Linked DNA regions of Homo sapiens: region 1 is linked to region 2. A link means that fine-mapping ties the variant in region 2 to the expression of a gene that starts in the linked region. Tissue or cell type: monocytes after LPS. Region 2 holds a variant in brackets; the other region holds the start of a gene. All regions are shown on one strand. Distances are between the middles of the regions.

The links. PIP is the estimated chance that this variant, and not a neighbour inherited with it, causes the effect.
Region 1: STK35 starts here. The variant in region 2 is fine-mapped to the expression of STK35 in monocytes after LPS (Quach 2016, PIP 0.91).

What each region holds. Positions count from the first base shown.
Region 1 is chr20:2,098,473-2,106,576 of GRCh38, forward strand. STK35 (serine/threonine kinase 35) reads left to right here and starts at 3,355. Exons shown (of 4, transcript NM_080836.4): 1 at 3,355-3,703; 2 at 4,296-4,893. The coding sequence starts at 3,410. RefSeq lists silencers at 3,241-3,430, 3,531-3,820, 3,831-3,880, 4,171-4,700, 4,721-4,770 and an enhancer at 4,116-5,084.
Region 2 is chr20:1,942,970-1,951,073 of GRCh38, forward strand. PDYN-AS1 (PDYN antisense RNA 1) reads left to right here and starts at 4,241. Exons shown (of 4, transcript NR_134520.1): 1 at 4,241-4,682. RefSeq lists enhancers at 2,560-3,106, 4,540-5,087 and silencers at 4,234-4,528, 7,874-8,104. The variant A/G (reference allele first, on the strand shown) is at 3,900.

The DNA of each region.
Region 1 (8,104 bases), 160 kb after region 2:
CTCTCTTGTGCCTGGCCTCTTTCACTCAGCATAATTATTTTGATTCATACATGCTGTTGTATCAATACTTTATTCCTCCCCCCATCAACACACCCTCAGCAACATTTCATTGTATGGGAATACCACAATTTGTTTATCCATTCATTTATTGCTGAACACTGCAGCATTTTCCAGTTTGGAATTCTTATGGGAAAAGCCACTGTGAATTCCTATACAAGTTGCTTTATTAACAGAAGTTTTCATTTACCTGAGACCCATGGAATTGCTGGGCCACAGGGTAGACATATATTTAACTTTATAAGAAACTGCCAAACTGGTTTTTTTTTTTTTTCCCAAAGTGGTTGTACCATTTTAAAATCTTACCACATGGCTGGTTTCACAAGCTTGTATCCATCTCATGGCTTTTGTACTTGTTCTTCTTTCTTCTTGGAATGACTTCCCATTCGGTTTCAGAGCTGGGTTCTTGACATTCAGGTTTCAATTCAAATGTCAAATGCCAAAGAGGCTATTATGGACTGAATTGTGTCCCTCCTCACTCCAAATTCATGTTGAAGTTATAATTCCCAGTACCTTAGAATGTGCCTATATTTGAAGATAAGGTCTTTAAAGAGGTAATTAAGATAAAATAAGGCTGTCGGAATGAAGGACAAAAACCATACTATCATTTCAATTGATGCTGAAAAAGCATTTGATAAAATTCAACATGGTTTCATGATAAAAACCCTAAAAAAAACTGGGAATAGAAGGAAAATACCCCCACATAATAAAAGCCATATATGACAAACCCACAGCTAGTACCATACTGAATGGGGAAAAACTGAAAGCCTTTAAGATCTGGAATACAACAAGGATGCCCACTTTCACCACTGTTATTCAACACAGTACTAGAAGTACTAGAAGTACTAGCTAGAGCAATCAGGCAAGAGAAAGAAATAAAGGGCATCCAAATAGGAAAGGAAAAAGTTAAATTATCCTTGTTTGCATATTATATCTTATATTTGGAAAAACCTAAAGACTCCACCAAAAAACTGTTAGAACTGATAAACAAATTCCGTACAGTTGCAGGATACAAAATCAACATACAAAAATCAGTAGCATTTCTATATGTTAACAGTGAACAATCTGAAAAAGAAATTTAAAAAGTAATCCCATTTACAATAGCCATAAATAAAAATACCTAGGAATTAATTTAAAGAAATGAAAGATCTCTATAATGAAAACTATAAAACACTGATTAAAGAAATTGAAGAGGACACACAAAAAATGGAAAGATATTTCATGTTCATGGATAGGAAGAATCAACATTGGTTAAAATGTCCATACTACCCAAAGCAATCTAAAGAGTCAATGCAATCCCTATCAAAATACCAATGACATTCTTCACAGAAATAGAAAAAAGGTTATGGTTAAAAAGACCTTCTGATCACCATTTTGCAACTGTAATAATTGTTTCAAGCAAGAATCACCATGAATTCTGAAACCAGTGGGTAAGAGTCTAAAGAAGAGGATATTTAAATAGTCTCAAAATATCTTCCCACAGAATACTTAATAGTTACAGAAGGAAAAATCGTAACTTTATGGTAGAGTGTAACTACTCCTACACCACCTCAACCAAATGATGGAAGTTAACACCACGAATACTGGGACAAACACAATGCCATGTGCCTCCTGATGAAAGGCCCTGAGGAGGCAACTTTTTTCAGCAGTAGTCCTGCCAAAAAATGCATACCCTCTCAGAATAGCAAGGGATGGGTTGGTGGGGGGTGGGGGAGGAGAGAAAAATGGATACTCTGAAACTAATAAGAAAACACAGATGAATAAAAATTTAGGGACATTCTACAATATAACTCGCCAGTATTCTTCAAAAATGTCAAGGTCATGAAAGACAAAGAAAGGCTGGATAACTAACTGCCCTTCCAGATTAAAAGAAACTAAAGAGGCATGACAACTCAGTGCAACGTCTGATCCTGAATTGGATCCTGGGGAATAGCTATAAAGGACATTATTGGGACCATTAGCAAAATTTAAATATGGATGGAGTGTATTAAATAAAACAATTGTATCATTGTTAAAATTCCTGATTTTTGACCACTGTACTGAGATTATGCCAGATAATGTCTTTTTTTTAAGGAAACACACACATATATTTAGGATAAAGGAGTTTGATGTTGGAAACTCTAAAATGATGTAGTAAAAAAGAATATATACATTATATATGTGTGTGTGTGAATATCTATATACCGTATACTGATTTCCTTTCTTTTGGGGTATATACCATATAGATATCCACACACAATATGTATTTGTGTGTATATATACACATACACGAGAGGATATGGATATGCAGCAAAATATAACAATTTGTTATTCTAGTGGAAAAGTATATGATCTTTACGATTCTTGAAATTTATGTGTAAATTTGAAATTTAATCACAAAAAAGTTAAGAGGTTTTCAGCGACCAAATACATTATAAGAAATGGCCTGTATCCAGTGAGCACTCTTTAGCTCATTCTTTTTCTCCATCACACTTACCACTGGCAAAAATTATCCTGTGCATTTATTTAATAATACTTAACATTGTGTGCAAGGCTGTCCTAAGTGCTTTACCTGTATAACCTCTGTGGATCTTCTTACAGGTAAGGAACAAATACACAAGAAGGTTGACTAACTTGCCCAAGGCCACCCATGTGGTTTGTCTCCTGCAGTGGCACAGAACCTCAACCAAGGCAGAAACTGCCTTGTCTATTGCTCTTTCCCCAGCGACTTGGAATGGTGCCTAGCACATTACGGGTGTTCAATAAACATCTGTAGATTCAGTTAACAAACACTGGGCACCCACTAGGCCTACACTGGAATACAAAATACAGAACAAAATATTCAAAAATCTGTGCCTAAATGGGAGCTTTGGGTACTAACAGCCCCACACCCAATTAGCCTCCATCTAGGTATTTCATTTGGGTCTATCATTCCTGGGAATTAAAGCCCATTCTATCCATTTTGCAGAGGATCATTAGATAAACGGATGCTCAGGGTGGGTCAATGATTTGCACAAGATCACTGGGCTGGTAGAAGGGAAGGTCGGGATTCCAACCCAGTCCCTGAGGTTCCCAGGACAGAGCTATGAATCAAACGACCAAGACAATCACCCAGTCAGTATTTATTAGGCGCCTACTGCGGACGGTTGGTCTTCACGCAGATCAGGCGAGAAGGGATAGTGATGCGCGGGCCGCTGCGGAGACCCGGAGCCCGCCGCGGATCACGGGAATTTCGCGCCTATTTTTTGTTGGCTGGGTGTTCTCGCCAGTGATTGGGTCCCGGCAAGGCGTGCCGGTGCGCTCGGCTGCGGCTGCTCCGTCGACCTTTGCAGGACCGGGCGGTGCAGGGCTCACTCGGCTGGCGTCCCGGGGGATGGGCCACCAGGAGTCTCCGCTGGCCCGGGCGCCGGCGGGAGGTGCAGCTTATGTAAAGAGGTTATGTAAAGGGCTCAGCTGGCGCGAACACGTGGAAAGCCACGGGAGCCTAGGAGCCCAGGCTTCCCCAGCGAGCGCCGCGGCAGCAGAAGGATCCGCTACACGCCGGGCTCGGGCCGCCACCTCCCGCGCTGCTCGGTCCCGGAGGCAGCCCGGGCCCGGAGCGGACCATCCCCAGGCAGGGGCTCCAGGGGGGAAACGGGCCGCCCGGAAGTGGAGGTGCGCGGGCCAGGTAAGGGCGCCGTTGGAGGACTGAAGGCCAGCGCCGAGGCTGGAGTTACTGCCACTGCCTCCGCGCTTGGGAAGGGAAATCGGGTCCTCGGCCAGTCGCACTCCGAGAAGCCGAACTTTTCAGCCAATCCCTTCTACCCGTCGCCCTCGGGGACTTGGGTCGGTCCGCTGGGCTCCGCTAGGGCTTAATTCAATGGACTGTTTACACCCGGGCGAACACAAGGCGGGGCGCGGGGAGGAGCGTCACAGAGGGGGCCAAGCAAAGAAAAATATTTCCGCCGGCCAAATCGCGTCTCTAAGCGGTTTTCAGAAGGCGTGAAGCTTGCTGGCTCTTCTTTTTCCTATCGCTACATGACAAGCTAACAGAGAGAGCGGAGAGTTTGTGCTTTTCTTTCCGGTTCCCCCTCTGAGCTGCTGCCCAGTGGTTCGGTCTTTCCCGCTTTCCCCTCCCCTCCCCCGTTCAATCAGCGGCGGTGGCTTCCGTCTTAAAGGGGCCGCGGCGGCCGGGGGAGGAGGAGGTGGGACGCCCCGCGGCCTACGCTCCTGGCCTCCCCGCCTTGGCCTGGCCGTTTAACCGATTCTTTCGCCCGCAGGTCACAATCCAAGGTCCGGCTCCTCCGCGTCCCAGGGCCGGACGGAGGGATGAGGCAGGGGGGGCCCGGGCAGCGCCGTTGCTGCTCCCCCCGCCGCCCGCAGCCATGGAAACGGGGAAGGACGGCGCCCGCAGAGGTACACAAAGCCCGGAGCGGAAAAGGCGAAGCCCAGTGCCGCGGGCGCCCAGCACGAAGCTGAGGCCGGCGGCGGCGGCCCGGGCCATGGATCCGGTGGCGGCCGAGGCCCCGGGCGAGGCCTTCCTGGCGCGGCGACGGCCTGAGGGCGGTGGCGGGTCCGCGCGGCCGCGTTACAGCCTGTTGGCGGAGATCGGGCGCGGCAGCTACGGCGTGGTTTATGAGGCAGTGGCCGGGCGCAGCGGGGCCCGGGTGGCGGTCAAGAAGATCCGCTGCGACGCCCCCGAGAACGTGGAGCTGGCGCTGGCTGAATTCTGGGCCCTCACCAGCCTCAAGCGGCGCCACCAGAACGTCGTGCAGTTTGAGGAGTGCGTCCTGCAGCGCAATGGGTTAGCCCAGCGCATGAGTCACGGCAACAAGAGCTCGCAGCTTTACCTGCGCCTGGTGGAGACCTCGCTGAAAGGTAGGAGCACCGCGGGCCTTTCCACCCACGCAGGGCCTGGACCCCCTGCTCTCCGGACGGCTTGGCCCACACTGTTCCTGGCCTTCCTAGGCCTCAGACCTGGTCCCTGTCACCCTGTGCCCTGACACACCCTCCTTTCCTGGGCCCAGGCATTCGGCCCTCTCTTCTCAGGTCCTAAGATCAGTCCCTGGGCCTAAAGTTGGCTGGTGTTTCCATAACAAGAGCTCGTTTAAGTGCTAACCATTAACTTAATAAGTGCTCAAGAATTGCGAGCTATGGTTATTAAACGTCTTCTATTTTTAAGATCGGTTGGGGGAGTGGAGGAGGGGTCGGGTTCAGTTAGTAGCAGAACTGCGGAGCCTCCTCACCCCCGAGGGCCTCTCTCTTTCCCTCCCAAAACAAACAAAAAGAAAAAACTTGACTGGACCCACCCACACCCTCTCCCTGTCTGGTTCCAAGTTTCCTGACACCCTCCAGCTCCAACCCCCAAACTCCTGTGGCTTCCTCGTCTGCCTTTTCCTCTGAGGCCCCCGGCCCTTCATCCCAGGCAGCCGAGCAAACTGACTGTCTTCTGGCTTGGTCCTCTGAGGGGTGCAGGCTGACAACCCTCACAGGTGGCCTGAGAGCTGTCACATAACAAAGCATCCGGCATCTTTTCCCTCCGTTTTACATTCTTAATCTTTTTCTTAACCTCAGAGGCTGGCTGGGAAGTGGTTTTACTTAAAAGGAAAATGGGGTACATTGAGGCAAGAGGTCTTGCAGTCCTGGAGGAACTAATTATCTTAGTTTCCGGGTTTTAACTGCAGTTAGGGAATGTATTCATCCTAACTACTCAGTACTCACAAGCCTTTTTCATACTACCAGTAGCTAAGTGTCTGCTTGGAGAGGAGAGAGGCGGTAGAAAGTTTGAGGAGACTTTCCGAGGCAGGAGGATCCAGGGGAAGAAAGTTTACTAATCCGAGTCCCAGCTGTGGTCTCAGTGCTGAAGTAATTTTTAGGTAATAACTTCAAAAGTAAATTCTATCCTTTTTCTATAAATAAACTAAGGCTTAGAAGTGAACAAATAACTTGATCAGGGTTAATCCGCTTGAAAGGGAAGTTAGACTGTACTCCTGGTTTCCTTACATTTCTCAGAGCTTAAGTGACGGGGATCCCAGATCTGTCTTGATTCGAGGCCTGGATCCTTTCGAAGGCGTAATGCTGTTCTCTGCACCCTGAGGATGAACTTTTTTAAGAGTGGGTAGGATTTGGGGTGAGTTTGGAGGGGGTGGTTTCCCAAAATCTTGTTACTTTTGCACAACTTAAAGATCCCCCAAGTCTTTCCCAAGAGAACGCTTTGTCCCATTGCAAGTCAGTTGTTTGACAGTGGAGTTGGAAACATGAATCAGTATCACCTAGAGTCCTTTAATTAGATGTCTAACTTTATAAAGTCCATCCGTGCCCCATCCATTCTGAGAAGCCTACCCTCTCCCCAGGGTGAGTGTTTTTGTTTTGAAAAGACTTCCAGCAGGGCACAATGGCTCACGACTGTAATCCCAGCACTTTGGGAGGCTGAGGTGGGAGGATGGCTTGAGCCCAGGAGTTTGGGAACAGCCTGGGCAACAAAGTGAGACCCTGGTCTCCACAAAAAATAGAAAAAAAAATAGCCGGACCTGATGGCACAGGCTTATAGTCCCAGCTACTTGAGAGGCAGAGGCAGGAGGATCAGTTGAGCCTGGGAGGTTGAGGCTACAGTGAGCCATTATCATGCAATGGCACTATAACCTGGGCGACTGAGCAAGACCCTGTCTCAAAAAAAAAAAAAAAAGACTCCCTAGGGGATTCGTTTATCTTACCTATATTCTAGGAGCGCATCACTTACTTTGAAGTCTTTCTATTCTCAGACTTCTCTTAGTCTTCTCCTTTACTGCCAATGAATGGTCTGGACTTCCTACTACAGGATTGCCTTGGGATGTAGGAATTTGCCTTGCCGAATGTTTATTCCTTGTGTCCTCAGTTCATTGACGCCAGTCTCGAACCTTCAACCTCAGCTTGAAGCTCTTGCTTACTCTCTCAACATATAAATACTATGTGGACTTTCCTCACCTGAAGAATTTGTCAAAATTCCAAAGTGACCCCATGGCAGCATAGCATAGTGGTTAGTACCATGGACTTTGGGGTTAGACCCTCTGGCTCATCCCAGGACTGACTGCACAAAACATGGAGCAAATTGTTTGAACCCTGTGAGGAGCATTCCTTTATTGTAAGATAGTGGGTATGTACCTATGACATTAGGTACATAGGGTCACTGTGCAAACTGTTAATGTCAGCAAGTGCTCCACATAGGGAGGAATTCACTGCCTTATATAAGTTCACACCATGTTCTGTACTCTTCTACCCTCACCCCCTTCAAGATTCACATTGTTCTTGCTCAAGTTTCCCAAACTTGTTTCATCATAGAACACACCTTGTTTTCTGTGTTGTCAGGCACACCAAGTTGACAGAAACACTGGTGTTTTCATCCTCCCTTTGTGAACTAAAACTGGGACCTAGAAAAATGAAATCTTTTGCTTTAGGCCGTACACTGGATTGGATTGGTCCCTTTCAGTTGTTTGGAGTCTTTAAAATATTTGAACCTCTACGGTGTTCAGGGCTCAGAGACAGAGCAGTGAAGAAAATATGTGTTGTTTCTGCTTATGAAAATGACATTCAAGCTGACTTGCAATGTGTGGATTTTTCAAGTAGTAAATAGGTAATCATTTTTGCTTCTTAAAATAGAGAACAGATACCAAAATTACTCCAGGTTAAACTTTGCTTATTCTGGATTCCAAAATTTAGGGGTCTTGATCTGTCCTGGGGCCTTGGGTTTACAGCATGCAAATACCACCCAGTAATGTTAAAGCTGGAAGGAATCGTAGAGATAACCTGGTTCAGCTCTCTCATTAAATAGAAAAGTCCTTTACAGTCACCCTTGGCCCTGCCTCCTAAAACTCAGAATGATTTTGAACAGGCCAAAAAGTGTGAATCTGCCTTGAAGTCTCAACTAAACCTAATGCTGAGTCCCTACTGTGGTATTTGAAGGGAAAGAAAAAAAGCAAAGCAAAACACACCACCCCTTGCCCCAATGGAACTTACATTTGAAAAGTTTGAGAACTGGAAGAAGATTTAAATGCTATTCAAGATCACTGGAGGAAATGACCAGTCAACTCATAAGCAAGGGCTTTGCACAAGA
Region 2 (8,104 bases):
ATACAACTGCACCCCAGAGTCCTTGCCCTGTGACCTTGGGCAAAGAGATTCACCACTGGGCCTCTGCTTTGTCACCTGTGAAACAGGGATAGTAGCAGCCTTCACCTCCGGGGGTTCTTGCGAGAGTTCGATGAGAAAGTAGATTTAAGACTCTTTGCAGCAGTGTGGTGCAGACAGCAGTCGACATATGCACAGAAACACACACACATTCACACCCACACACTCACATATCAGGCCAGGTTATTAGAGCATCGCTGCAATGGTGGGTCTTCTGACGAATAATTTTATCAAGTCCCTCTCTTTCTCATTAGCCTGAGATAGGTCTCTCTTACCAACCTTTCGGGTATGGGGTGCAACACCCCAGCTTGGTTTTCGGAGTCCTCTGCCTTATACCACCACCTGACCTGTTTAAGAACATTTCCTGCTCCTCCCCAGCCCCTGCTGGACTCCTTGGCCAGGTTGATTTTCCTCTCCCAAGAAATACTATATAGCAACTCCTTTGACTTCCCTAGCCCCACCATGAGTCATTCCTCCAGTGACTTGGTGTCCTCTTGACCAGACATGAGCTCCCAAACCAGAACTTCACGCTCTACCTTTGGGATTCAGCCCCTAGGATAAGGGAGACTAAAGCCTACCATGTGCCACGCTGGACTCTGGACACTCGAATTCTTTACTTCATGGAACCTTCACATTCTTTACAAATGGAATGTCAATTTCACAGGGAAGAAAATTGAGGCTCAGAGAGGTGGAGAGGTAATAAGTTCAAGATCTTTCAACTAGTAATTATTTCTCAAGCTCCTACTGGAACCTGGCCCTGTGCAAAGTTCTGAGGACACAATGTGGACAAAAAATGGACCACACCCATATGAGCTCATATATGAGGGAACCAGAGCCACTGGCAATCCCAGTGCAGGGATGAGCGCTGCTGAGAAGGGCGTGACAAACATGACGTACAAGTGCAGAATTAACACACTAATGAGTGAGCCAGCAGTGGGGCAAGAGCTGGTTCCAAGAGTAAATGGGCACTTAGAGGCTTTGAAAAAGGAAGGTGAGAATAACATTTTCAAGTTAGAGATCAATCCGGTTAATGTCCCACAAGGCAATAAGGCCATATCTTTGGAGATATTTTTTTTCTGCCAGACAGAAGCCATTTGCACCCACCAGACAAAAGTCTACAAATTAGCCCCAATCTGGGCCTTAATCAAATAGGAAAGACAAACTCAGGTATATTCTTCTACAGAACTAACTAATCCTTCAGTGGGGCTTTTAAACCGTGCCCCAGTATGGCAACGAGATGAAGCACTGCCTTCTTTTGCCTTATTTCCAAATTTGAGATACTTTGTCTTATTAAAGGAAAGTATACTGGCTTCATTCAGCCTGCACAGGGCAGAAAAAGACTTCTTGAAGAGGAAATCCCTGAACTGAGATCTAAAAAATAAGTAACAAGAAGCCAGGTAAGTGCAAAAGAGCCAGTGCAAAGGAGTTCCAAGGAGCCAGTGCCTGGCAGAGGCCAGCCGTCCCTGTGTGCACTGGCCCCTACTGAGCTCTGCAGCCCGATTCACACCACTCTCTCCATCACTCCCTGCACTGGCAACACCAGCCTCCTGCCAGTTTCTAAAATGAACCACAGGACCCCGGCATGAGCTACTCCCTCTGCCTGCAACACTCCCTGGATCTTTCCTGCTTGTCCTCCAATCCAGAGGCTGGGCTAAGTTCCCTTGTCAAACACTTCCATAGTAACCATGTCCAGCCCTTCTTTGTAGCCCTCATCTCAATTTGTAATTATACATTGGCACTGTGATTACATGATTACCATCCTCTCCTCTACTGCCCCAGTTGCTGCCTCAGGGCAAGGAGGGTGTTGATTCACTCATCAGTGTAACTCCTATGCTAAGCCCATAGGAGGCACCCAGCAAATATTAGAGGGATGGGAGGATGGACGGAGTGATGAGAAGGAGGATGAGAGGATAGATGGATGGAAGAAGGGAGGCTGAATGGATGGCTGGATTGATGCAGGAGAGCACGGATGGGTGGATGGGTGGGAAGGAAGAAAGGAAGGGGGAGAGGGAGGGAAGAGAGCAAAGGGGGAGAAGGAAGAGCATAAAAGTCGGAGTCTGCTTGGCATTTTAGGAGAACTGAGAGTCCCTGGCTGGCAGGTTTGGAACTAGAAGCAAACCTCAGTACATCTGACTTTTCCCACTGAGTTTCTCTGCCTTTCATCATGATCCTGGGTTCAGGGCAATCACTTTTTTAAAAAAATGACGCATGATCCCCAACAGGCAAGGAGCCAATGACCTTTGTCTGAGCCTTTGGTTCCTCTTCTAGAGAAACTGGGGCTATACTTAGAAAACAGGATAAAAGATTGCAAAAATTTGTCTACTCTCAAATTGCACAACCCTAGCGTGGCTGGTCAATGGCTCAACTTTGGGAGCTGGCGGGGCTCAGCCTCTCAACAGACTTGTCCTCCTGGCTCTGCTTCAATGACAACAGGCCAAGCCCTCATGGTAGAAGGTGCCGTTCCCACCAACCTGGGCCTTCTGCCCCCGCAGGCCCTCTCTGGGCAAGGTCAGCTGGTGCGGCAGCCGGTCGCATGGATCTGGGCCACAGACCTGTCTCCAGAATGAGGCCGGGTGAGAGTTTAATGGCAAGAAGGCTGCAGCCTGACTAAGGCTGTCGGCTTGATTCTGCCATGGCTCCCCCCCATGCCAGTAAATGGACCCTGTGCACATGCAGATTAATGCATTATCGCTAATGTTTTGTGCCAGATGCAAAGGCACTCGGGCAGCCCGGCCGAGAGCTGCCATTACCACAGGACCTTTTGCTGGAAAATTTTTCTTGGGGCAATTAAATCTTCAGCTGTCTCCTCCAAGGGAGTGCCAGCTTGCATTTTAATTATCCTCAAAAGAGGGAAGTAGGGGAAAGGACACAAGGCAAAGAATGAAAAAATAACAACCTGCTTTATAAACACAGTGGTTTCTCCCCCATCAACTCCACAGTGCCCTTGACCTTTAGATTCCTGCCTCCCGATACCCTTGGAAGGACCCCTTTAACGGGAAGAAGGGAGAGGAGGTAGGAGAGAGCGTTTCTTGAGTGTGGAATAAGTGTTAGTGCAATGCATTATGCCTGGTTAATTTTTTTTAAATTTTTTTTGTAGAGACAGGGTTTCCCTATGTGGCCCAGGCTGGTCTCAAACTCCTGGGCTCAAGTGATCTTCCTGCCTCAGCCTGCAAGTAGCTGGAACTACAGGTGCATGCCAACCAGCCCAGCTAATTTTTTAAAAAAATTTTTGTAGAGACTGGGTCTCCCTACGTTGCCCAGGCTGGTCTCAAATTCCTGGGCTCAAGTGATCCTCCTGCTTCAGTCTCCCAAAGTGCTGGGATTAGAGGCGTGAACCACCATTCCCAGACTCATGGAAAGTTCGAGAACCGGCAAAACTCATCAGTCAGGTGCTAGGGCGAGGGAAGCACTTGACTAAAAGGGACAAAGGGAACTTTCGGGGACCTGGAAATGCTTATCTTGATTGAGGTGGTGCTTACATGGGTGTACATATCAGTCAAAACTCATCAAACTGTATACTTTAAAATGAGTGCATTTTATTGTTTGTAAGTTAATACTTTAATAAAGTTGATTTTAAAATAATAATAAAATAATACGAGTTAATATTTATCTAGACCTTACTATGTGCCGTCCTAGTCGCGCTTCGTATGTGTTAAGCCCTTTATCCCTCACTCCAATCTGTGACATAGGCACTCAGTACCCCGTTGCCCAAATGAGGAAATTGAAACACAGAGAAGTTTGGCAACTTTCTAAAGTGACGCAGCTAGTAAGAGGCAGGGCCTGGGTTCAAATGGAGGCAGATTTTAAGCCTATAGCTGAACAGCGAAGTCCAAGATTACCCA[A/G]CTGGTTATTACTAGAGGCAGGATTAAACCCCGGTGCCTTTCCAACGTGATGAAACCGGTGGAAGAGGAAAACGCATTCATTCACTAGGGAAACATTTACTCATCCTCCGCTGCAGGTCGAACTGTAGACACAGAGAGCAACAGACAAATCCCAGGCCCTCGTCGGGGAAGAAAGGGATCATGAAATAAACAGAAAAATAAATGCGAAATGCGGCCAGCGATGAAAGCTCAGAAGGCGAGCTTACCCCGGACCCAAACGCGCAATACTAACCGGGAGTGTAAGGAGGCCACGCCCTCCTCGCGTATTTGTGCCCAAATGAGCTGCCTCCCCAGCGTGCACCAAATTCCTGAGCCACCTGCTCCGAGCTCGATTTCCCTTTCAAGCTGTGTGTTCTGCGGGGGCAGGGAGAGCTGCAAGGGCTCATCTTTCAGGACGTGCTGCAAAGGCCCTTTGAAGTCATCCGCCCTGCTCTTGGCACCTTGCGCCTGGAGCTGAGCTCTTCCAAAAATGACCCCTGCGCATTCCGTGGTGCGGCCGCCCAGCCCAGGCAGTCGCGGTCCAGAGCAGGGGAAGCTGCAGCGCGGCCGACAGCTGGGAGAGCCGAGGCCCTGAGGGAGGACCCTGCCTCAAGCCAAGCAACCAGGCCCTGCGGCCCTCTCCCCACCCCTGTGCGGCCCTGGCGCAGGGAACCGGGACGGGGCTTTCAGGCCTTGAAGGGCAGACTTACTCCACCAAACATTCCCATCGTCGGCTGATGGAGGGCCTCGAGCTGGGCGCTGTGGGTACGTTATCCTATTTACTTCTCTCGGTAGCCCTGCACCATCGCCTCTGGTTCCCAGGTAAGCACAGAGAAGCAGATGACTTGCCCAAGATCACACAGTACTGCAGGAATAGAATTGGCGTCTGGACCTCTCCCCTAATACCCCACGGCCTCCAGAATCTCACCTCAGCCCCTGTCCATCCCGAAATAAACACTCTACACCATTTAGTGAATGTTCTTTCAGAGGTCAGACCCTATACATTCATTTCCTGGCTCCCCCATTTCCTGACTGCGTGACCTTAAGCAAGTTTCTTAACCTCTCTGTGTCAGCGTCCTCCTCTGTAGAATGGTGCCAAAAACTGTACCTATCCCAGAAGGTTACTGTGAGGACCAAATGAGACAAGACAATAAATGTAAAAGTGGTTAAAACTGTGCCCAGATGATAGTGAGCCCTCAAAAACTAGTCACTCTTCTAATTCCATAGACTTGATTAATTTCTGGTTTTTCATAAGTGGATTTACATGTATACATTTAAGGCACCTTTCCAAGTAAGACATACAGGTCTACCTCATTCTTTCAAGCAGCTTCATAACATTCTTGTATTCATTCATTCATTCATTCATTCATTCACCAAACATGTGTAGAGCGGGCAGCTCCTGTACACCAGGCAAGGGCATACAACACACTCAGTCCTTGCTCTGAGTTCTCATGGGAGGGATAATTGACAAATGCATGAATAAATAGTTGAGAGCATTTCACCTTATACTGAGTGCTATGAAGAAAATAAGATGGGGCCAGGCTCTGTGGCTCATGCCTGAAATCCTAGGACTTTGGGAGGCCGAGGCGGGCAGATCATTTGAGGCCAGGCATTCAAGACCAGCCTAGGGTTTTAGTAGAGAAAATCCATCTGTACTAAAAATACAAAAAAACAAAACAAAACAAAAATGCTCTATGTGGTGGTGCATGCCTGTAATCCCATCTATTCTGGAGGCTGAGGCACCAGGATTATTTAAATCTGGGAGGCAGAGTTTGCAGTGAGCCGAGATCTCACCACCACACTCCAGCCTGGGTGACAGAGTGAGACTCTGTCTCAAAAAACAAAAAAAAAAAAAGAAAAAAGAAAAAAGTAAAAAGAAAAGATGGACAAAGTGTTAGAGAGACGCTGGTTGGGAGAGGGAAAACAATTTACAGACAGTGCGTGAAGTCCCCAGGGATATGGCATTTTACTGCCACCGGAAGGAAGAGAAGGAAGGAGAATGGAGCAGTCCAGGCAGAGGAAGCAGCCAGGGCAAAGGCTGGGAGGCTGCACTAAGCTCAAGTGTGATTCAACTGGAGGTAAAGAATGAGCATTTTTGAAACCAGGTTGGAGAGTCAGGCCAGGGCCCAGTGAGACAGCGCCTGTGGATTTTAGCCTGAGAGACATGTGAAGTCCCTGAACCCGGGGGTCCTGCAGCTGTGTAGGAACAGATTGGAGAGGCACCAATGGAGGAACCAGGAAGTTTGTCAGGCTACAGGATTCAGAGGCACGGGCAAGAGGCGATGGTGGCAGGGACTAGGGATGCAGCCTCCAGCCTGGAACATGCCTCAGTGGCAGAGCCCACGGGACCAGCTGATGGGGAAGACAGAGTTGAAGGAAAAAAAGAAACAAGTTGCCACTGACAGATGTCAACATAATAATTTAATTAATGAATTCCCTATTGATGGAGAGCTGGACTGTTTCTATTTTTTCCCTACTTGCAAACAATTTTGTCTTAAACATTATTGCATAGATAGCCCCAGATATGAGATGCTTGGATCAAAGGGGTGAACTTTTTTTTTTTTTAATCATATCCAGATGGCCACATTGCCTCCATTCCACTTGTGTCCAACATGCAGGAGTTCCAGTTTCTACCCTGGAACTTTCTCCTCCTGCTGTGCTCCTGGGAACACTCTGCCCAACCCCTCCACCTCTGGCACAGACCCGGTCTCCAATGCATTTGTATTTCTTGCTGCAATCTGGAATTATAAGTTGTTAAGAAGAAAACCTCAGAACCAGGCTAAGTGGCTAAAAAGACTGCCCAGGGGCCTCTTTTTCCAGCAGGAGGCAGAGAGAGGCTTCCAACACCCTGAAGAGGGCCAGTTTACCCCTATTCTTCCAAATACAAGGAATTGACTTTTATTTTTTTTTCCCTCTTCAGGCCTGAAAACAAGCCAGAGCATTGAATGGCCATGAAAACAAGCAGTGAAAACAGGCCCTGAGGTTACAGGAAACCCTTCTCCCCACCACTCTCTGAGCAGCGGGAAGGAAGGGAGCCACTGTCCTCTGGGTCCTCTGCCCTTCAGCCCTCCTGGAGGCCCACTGGCCTTCCCCATCTCACATGTGATCAATGCCCCCTGGTTGTGGCCACCACCTGCTGCCTGACCCCCATTCCATGCCAGCTTTTGCTACCAGAGTTTCCTTTTCATAAGTGGCCTTTTTAAAGGAAGTATTTTCTTTTAATCAGCAGTCACTGCATCTGTAACAGTGCTGAAGCAGAATTTTGTTATTTTCCCATTACTTAGCGCTTCTCTGTTCCATTTATTTGGGGGAAGAATCGCTAAGATTTCAGAGATTCGTAGCTCTCTTGTACGCGGTATCTGATTTTCACTTTGGCATTTGGAGATGCTTTTGAAGGTGGTTTATGTTATCTTTCCAAGACTTACCTGGTGAGTTACTTAATCAAGAGAGGATTTTGAAACATACTGCCTCTTAATATCTTGTCTTTTGTTTTTGTTTTGTTTTTTTGAGACAGAGTCTCACTCTGTCGCCCAGGCTGGAGTCCAGTGGCATGATCTTGGCTCACAGCAACCTCTGCCTCCCCAGATCAAGCAATTCTCCCACCTCAGCCTCCTAAGTAGCTGGGATCACAGGCACACACCAGCACACCTGGCTAATCTTTGTATTTTTAGTAGAGACAGGGTTTCGCCATGTTGGCCAGGCTGGTCTCGAACTCCTGACCTCAGGTGATCCACCCACCTTGGTGTCCCAAAGTGCTGGGATTACAGGCGTGAGTCACCGTACCCAGCCTATCTTGTCTTTTAAAACAAGTGACTTTTTTTTTACAGCAAAATAAATGGATAGCAACTCTTTGACACTGCTAGTAACTATTATTAATTGACTGCTTAGGAAATGTCAGCTGCCAGGCTGGGCTCATTCCCATTGGATCTTCTCCGCAGCTCTCTAAGGGAGGTGTGAGTTTTTGTATACATTTAATGTGTGAGGACACCAAGGTATGGAGAAGTTGACTACTATCAGTAACTTACCCAAAGTTACAGACCAGGGCAGAAATGAGGTGCAGATTCCATACTCCCCAGGGCCCTTCCTTTGTAACCATGGTTACAAAGCCTCTCAGAGGGAAGGCGGCGGATTCTCCTGCAGGTCACTGTGGCAGTGACATGGGCAGGGGTGGCGGACAGACACATGTT